2 separate regions of the Homo sapiens genome follow, and region 2 is reported to be linked to region 1. The links are microRNA targets in miRTarBase. Many come from high-throughput screens and were not tested one by one. Region 1 holds a microRNA gene; the other region holds the end of a gene's coding sequence.

What was found. Region 1 holds the annotated microRNA hsa-miR-4657 (AAUGUGGAAGUGGUCUGAGGCAU, at 1,115-1,137, opposite strand). A microRNA usually pairs through its seed, bases 2 to 8, with sites in the 3' UTR of a target mRNA and lowers its output. Matches are read on the target gene's strand: a 7mer-m8 pairs with bases 2 to 8, a 7mer-A1 pairs with bases 2 to 7 and ends in A, and an 8mer does both.
Region 2: miRTarBase lists UBE2D3 as a target of hsa-miR-4657. Seed matches in the 3' UTR shown: 7mer-m8 at 2,359-2,365.

Annotation. Positions count from the first base shown.
Region 1 is chr7:44,880,664-44,884,080 of GRCh38, forward strand. It overlaps MIR4657 (microRNA 4657), which reads right to left and starts at 1,137; the gene lies at 1,085-1,137. PURB (purine rich element binding protein B) reads right to left here. Exons shown (of 1, transcript NM_033224.5): 1 at 1-3,417.
Region 2 is chr4:102,794,738-102,798,154 of GRCh38, reverse strand. It overlaps UBE2D3 (ubiquitin conjugating enzyme E2 D3), which reads left to right. Exons shown (of 8, transcript NM_181891.3): 8 at 695-3,417. The coding sequence ends at 740. The region is part of intron 4 of LOC102723704 (a long non-coding RNA gene); the gene reads right to left. Among named protein-coding and RNA genes, the nearest start is that of UBE2D3, 31 kb to the left of the region's middle.

The DNA of each region.
Region 1 (3,417 bases):
AATTGTTTTGTTTTGAGAAAACTGAAGCTTAAATCTCTTAAAAGACCTGCAATTTACTGCAAAGTAATCCAGAGGTAACAAAGGAAGCAGGAGGTTAACGGCTGCCTGCACCAAAAGCCTCTCAATCATTTTGCAGTAAATAATTATGGAAAGTGATGTGACAAGTAGCCATGTGTGTATCACAGCTACAGTCATTTATACCACGTATATGCCTCCGATAGTTACATAGGGTGTTTGGGTTTTTGGTTTGGTTTTCACTTTGATTTTTGGTGCCATACAGATTTATATTTTGTTCTTGTGCAGCATATGCACTGAAAAACTTGCTGCTGTTCCACTTGCTGAAATGATAGGGACAATAGAAACCAAAACCAAAACATAGAAGGAAGAGTAGTAGGATCTCTTCACAGATTTTTATTCTTTTGATTCTGTTCCTAAAATTTGGCTTTTCACCTTTGTAACTATGGTAGTTTGGGAAACAAACCTTCTAACAATTATATGAAAAGAAGTTTTAGTTTCCTACTTCTCAGGAATATGACTATTTTGATTAGCTGGGATGTTTGCCAAGCTTAAAAAAAAAGGCTCAAAATCATTCATAGCAACAACTGAAAAACAAAAAAATTGGTTGTTTCCCATGTCTGTACAATGCCATTATCTGACTGGAATTAACAAAGACCATTTCCTTTAATAAGCTATTAATAATATTTACGAATGAATCTGTGTTTTGCAGGTTTCTATTGTCCCTAGTGACTGGAGTGAAGATCAGTGAAATGCTACAATTAATCCACAGCCTTCTGCAATCTTCCTGCAGTGGGAAGAGAGGCCATGAACCATCCCTTGCAGGAGAAACAAACCTTAGAGATTGGTTAAGACTTAAAAACCCACCACTATGACATTACCACTTAATCTTACATAGGCAGGTCAAAATTTTAATATAAATTACTTTTGCCAACACATAGCTTATGCATTCTTTGCTCCTTTTTTTGGAGGATTTTCAAATTGATATCTAAAGATTTACATATGATATATTACTGTTACATGGTCTAATGACTAAGAAAATTTCTCTGGTAACCAAAGCTGATGCCATATATGGTAGTGTTCTTGGCATATACTCTATATGCCTCAGACCACTTCCACATTCTTTCTATTCAGCTAATTATAGCTTAGTAGCCACTGGTGAAGGATTGTGAAGACCCTGTCATTTCTACAGAATAGAAAGGCAAGGCTAGTTACTGCAATTCAGCCAAACAAAAAGAAAAAAGAATAAACCAACCCCTTAAAAAGGAGAGGTACTGCACCTTTGCAAAATTGAACTGGCTCACTGCAGCTGAGCAACAGAACCACCACTGAAGCAAGAAAACAAGTTGGTCTATACAAGAATTGTACATGGTTTGAAAATGAAAAAGTTACAGCAATCAACTAATAGCTGCAACTTAAATTTTCATTGCTGCCTCAGAGTTGAAACTTAAATAGTTTCTGCAAACCTAATGCTAGCTTCTCAGCTCCTTTACTAAAACTATTTAGGAATTTGTTCTCCGCAGCAAAGAAATAGACACTCAAAACACGTAGGTAAATACAGCAGGACATTATTGAAAAACAGCTGCCTTGTAGTACAAAATACAGTACAAGTATACGGATGTCATTAAAACATCAAAAATACTATTGCTCCCATACAATTTAGGAAACATTCTTTGCAACGGAGAAAAATTTAAAAGAAAAGCTTTAAAAAAATCTGTTTAAAAATTCTACTGTGGATGATGAGAGTAGAGAAATAGTCTGAAAAGGGCACCAATGTTTGTGGCTCTTCCACTTTTTAATCTAAGATCAACAATATTCTGCATCATAATCTATTTTTTTAAAAAAGCCTAATTTTATGTACACAATTATTTCCCGCCCTCTCAGCCACAAATACATGAAAACCTTTTTGTATATTACTCATTTCCCAATAAATACAAAAAGATTGTATAGATTGAATAATACCAAAATAAGATAATAAAAAGGATATGCAATAAATTAAAAAGGCAGCTCAAATAAGGGGCAGGCATGCAGTTTAAAAAAAATACTAAGATTGTGGAGGCGGGGTTACTTGCCTCCTGGTTGAGAAGGTGTCACACAAAGAATACCTGAAAACTTTGGAAAGAACGTTAGCTCCCATTCAATTCAAAGTTACCTAGGTCTATGACATTTCTAGGAATACCTTTTGATGGGGTGGGATTAACTTGATTAGTAAAAATCATTTCTACTGAAAATCCATTTAAAATATAGAAGAGGCGATCCTTGAAAACCCCAACTTTTATTCTTGAAAGACAGCTGGATTAACTGGCAAAAGCCAGTTTGTTGAAATTTCAAGATGGTATAAAAATGCTTCCAGGATATAGTCAGCATATTCACGTTCACTTCAGTTCCATTCACAGATGGATTTCAGCTTCCACCGGGTGCACTGCTTGAATCACTCATCCATCATTTGCCAACTCTGATTGTGAGGTACTGATACAATGGATCAAGTTCTTAAAAATTTTAAAAGAATAAATGATGCTGGAATTCTGGACCTGAGGATCTTTAGTATTTGAACAAATCCACAGATTAAACTGAAGGTAAATTAAGACTTCAGTTTTGGTTATTTCCAACTTTTCTGTGAGGATGTATATCCATTAAAGCTCAGGCTTATAGCCACACTGTTACTTTTGTAGGTAATCTTCAAGTTTTATGGTTTAAAATCCAGCCAACCAGTGGCTGTAACAGCCGAATTAGCCATAATTCACTGGCTCACACAGTGGAGATCTGGCTCTCATTCATACCAAAGCATTTCTTGGTAATGACCTCCATATTTAGAGATCAGGGGAACAACTTTAGTGAGCAGCAACCAATCCACTCAAACAGTCTGCCTTGTGCTTTATGCCTGACTTTTTCTTGTGCCTACCTCAGCAACCCCCAATGTAAAACTGCTTTTATCTTTGAAAATTTTTTGTCAACTTTGAAACTATTTTAGTAACGGATTCTACTCCAAGCATTGCTATCTGAATCCACTGGCATCCTGGAAAACAATTCTGCGAAGAAAAGACATTTGCCTTGGTCCAGGTTCCATGCAAAACCATTTTTTTAAAAAAATGGATCCAATTTGGTTCTGTATTCTTAGATGGCTTCTTGAAATCTTATCTTTAACCTGTTCATGATTATCCCAAGTTGCATTTCTTTTCGTGAACCTGAACCCTCAGAACTGGGTAATTGTAAAGGCCTCTCTTCTCAAGGATTCCATGAAGACCTAGATCCAAAATGCTGATTTCAATGGAGGTGAAGGGATAGACACCGCAACAGTGAGGCCTAGAGAGATCTTTTATGCCAGATTACCCAGGTGCAACCTAAATGCAACTGTTATCAATGGTCTGGGTAACTTGGACATGTTTCTTGCCCTGGATGTGC
Region 2 (3,417 bases), not on the chromosome of region 1:
TGTGAATTACCTGTTGATCTTTTTAAACGAAGATGCCCTTGTTGTACTCAACAGGTCTCAGTGGTGCTTATTAGCCTCAGTTACCACACTTATTAAAAGTAACACGTGATTCTGATGAACACAACCACTCACACACACACCCCTTTTGAAAATTACTGCCCTTTGTCATTCTGCCCAGTGTCATCTTCCCCTTCTGCCTCTACCTAAGTCCCAAAGCCATTTTTTCTTGTAATATCCAGGACCAAGTAATTTCCCAAACTCTAGGATTCAGATAAAATTGTTCTAGTAAAAGCCTAGTTCTGGCCTTGGTGGAAATTTCTGTGGATAGATAGAATGTGTATACTATTTTAACATTTGTCCATAATGAACTGTAAAAATTTCTTCACGTTAAAATTAGAGCATGAGCTCGGTGGTAGAGAAAGAAAGGGTCTTTTGATTTTTGTTAGCCTCCCAATTTTCAGTGCTGCTTTCTTAGTTGTTTTTAAAATACTACTTTCAGAGCATCAGGCTCTCATTTCCCACATTGCTTTGAGTACCAGTGCTATTTCTCCCTTGTTGGCTTTTATTCTAATCATAGTCATTAGAGATGACTTCATGATGAGTCTGGAGATGATAAAATGGAAATCTTTCCCTTCCATTTAAAGTATTAGGAATTCTTTATTTTAACTTTTAAAAATAACATCTTTATTTACAGGTACAACAGAATATCTCGGGAATGGACTCAGAAGTATGCCATGTGATGCTACCTTAAAGTCAGAATAACCTGCATTATAGCTGGAATAAACTTTAAATTACTGTTCCTTTTTTGATTTTCTTATCCGGCTGCTCCCCTATCAGACCTCATCTTTTTTAATTTTATTTTTTGTTTACCTCCCTCCATTCATTCACATGCTCATCTGAGAAGACTTAAGTTCTTCCAGCTTTGGACAATAACTGCTTTTAGAAACTGTAAAGTAGTTACAAGAGAACAGTTGCCCAAGACTCAGAATTTTTAAAAAAAAAAATGGAGCATGTGTATTATGTGGCCAATGTCTTCACTCTAACTTGGTTATGAGACTAAAACCATTCCTCACTGCTCTAACATGCTGAAGAAATCATCTGAGGGGGAGGGAGATGGATGCTCAGTTGTCACATCAAAGGATACAGCATTATTCTAGCAGCATCCATTCTTGTTTAAGCCTTCCACTGTTAGAGATTTGAGGTTACATGATATGCTTTATGCTCATAACTGATGTGGCTGGAGAATTGGTATTGAATTTATAGCATCAGCAGAACAGAAAATGTGATGTATTTTATGCATGTCAATAAAGGAATGACCTGTTCTTGTTCTACAGAGAATGGAAATTGGAAGTCAAACACCCTTTGTATTCCAAAATAGGGTCTCAAACATTTTGTAATTTTCATTTAAATTGTTAGGAGGCTTGGAGCTATTAGTTAATCTATCTTCCAATACACTGTTTAATATAGCACTGAATAAATGATGCAAGTTGTCAATGGATGAGTGATCAACTAATAGCTCTGCTAGTAATTGATTTATTTTTCTTCAATAAAGTTGCATAAACCAATGAGTTAGCTGCCTGGATTAATCAGTATGGGAAACAATCTTTTGTAAATGCAAAGCTGTTTTTTGTATATACTGTTGGGATTTGCTTCATTGTTTGACATCAAATGATGATGTAAAGTTCGAAAGAGTGAATATTTTGCCATGTTCAGTTAAAGTGCACAGTCTGTTACAGGTTGACACATTGCTTGACCTGATTTATGCAGAATTAATAAGCTATTTGGATAGTGTAGCTTTAATGTGCTGCACATGATACTGGCAGCCCTAGAGTTCATAGATGGACTTTTGGGACCCAGCAGTTTTGAAATGTGTTTATGGAGTTTAAGAAATTTATTTTCCAGGTGCAGCCCCTGTCTAACTGAAATTTCTCTTCACCTTGTACACTTGACAGCTGAAAAAAAACAACATGGGAGTAATAATGGGTCAAAATTTGCAAAATAAAGTACTGTTTTGGTGTGGGAGTTGTCATGAGGCTGTGTTGAAGTGACTTATCTATGTGGGATATTGAGTATCCATTGAAATGGATTTGTTCAGCCATTTACATTAATGAGCATTTAAATGCAACAGATATCATTTCAGGTGACTTAACATGAATGAATAAAAGTCAATGCTATTGGATTGTTTTTTGTTTGACAAGTGCTATCTGTGCCACTGATTTAACTTCTGTAGTAACAAGGGCATTACCATTCTTCACCTTTCCTAATTCTGATCCCATAGTTTTACATTTTTCCTGTTTATTTTGATTTTGTTCACTGCTTTATTTCTTAAAGTTCTAGCACATCTGTGACTCCTCCACTTCCACATTTTTGCACTGCTTACACTTACGTGCAATCTTATTCCTTGTCTGCACACACATGTGGAAAGCTAGAAATAAATGTTAAAACTTACTTTTTATAAACATTTTAATATGTAGTTTGGACATGATTTATTGACTTAAGGTTCTTCTCTAAACTGGAAGTGAAATGCATGCCTTCTGAAGATGTTCTGGCTTTGTTAATTCTGTAATCATTTCATTGGGGAAAAAACCAGCTACGCAGTTTTTCCAATGAGTGAATTTTTTCATTTTGTGTTTTGCTTAAAACGGCTCCTTCAGGGTAGATGTCATACTGCATAACTTTTTTGGATTCAAATTATGAATGAGAAATTAGTTAACATTCTGCTCCACAAGGTAAGAAAAACTGCTCTTTGGCTCTATTTTCAAAATTACTTCTGAGATGCATATAGTCTCAAAATAACAGCTTTAGTAGGCATATCACTTCTTGAAAGCCAAACATGAGTGTAAGACACTTTTATGAAACACGGTGGATCCCTAACTGGCTTTCAAATTGACCTTTATAGCCTTAGACAACCCTTAGGTATTTACGGAGATGACTTCTTTGATTGTCATAACAATTAGTGGATGTGTCCAGTTCTCTGTATCTTTGACTTGATGCTTTATACATCATTTCATTTGTTGCTTCTAAGGGAATAAGCCATAGAGGCTTCTCCAGGTTTAAAAGAACAGTAAAGTACCTGGAAAACCAACATTTTTGAATGTATGGACACTGGACATGAGATATGTACAATGAAATCTTAAAAGAATCTAAGAATTTGCCCTCTTTGCCCCACTCCACCCAGTAATTTGACATTACTAGTGCCATGTATAGGACCCAACTGAGTATTAGAATCAGTTTTGACTATGTCTTTGTATTTCCTAAATCTTTTAATGCATAAACCGAATTAGGGTCCAGTTGGCCTGTTAATGGTAAATTTACATTTTAAATGACTCAGTTTGTTTTTCCTGGGCGAGTTTGCAATGTGATAATCAGATTTTTTAAAACTGATTAATTTGCTTTCTTGTGTGGGTGTACTCACAT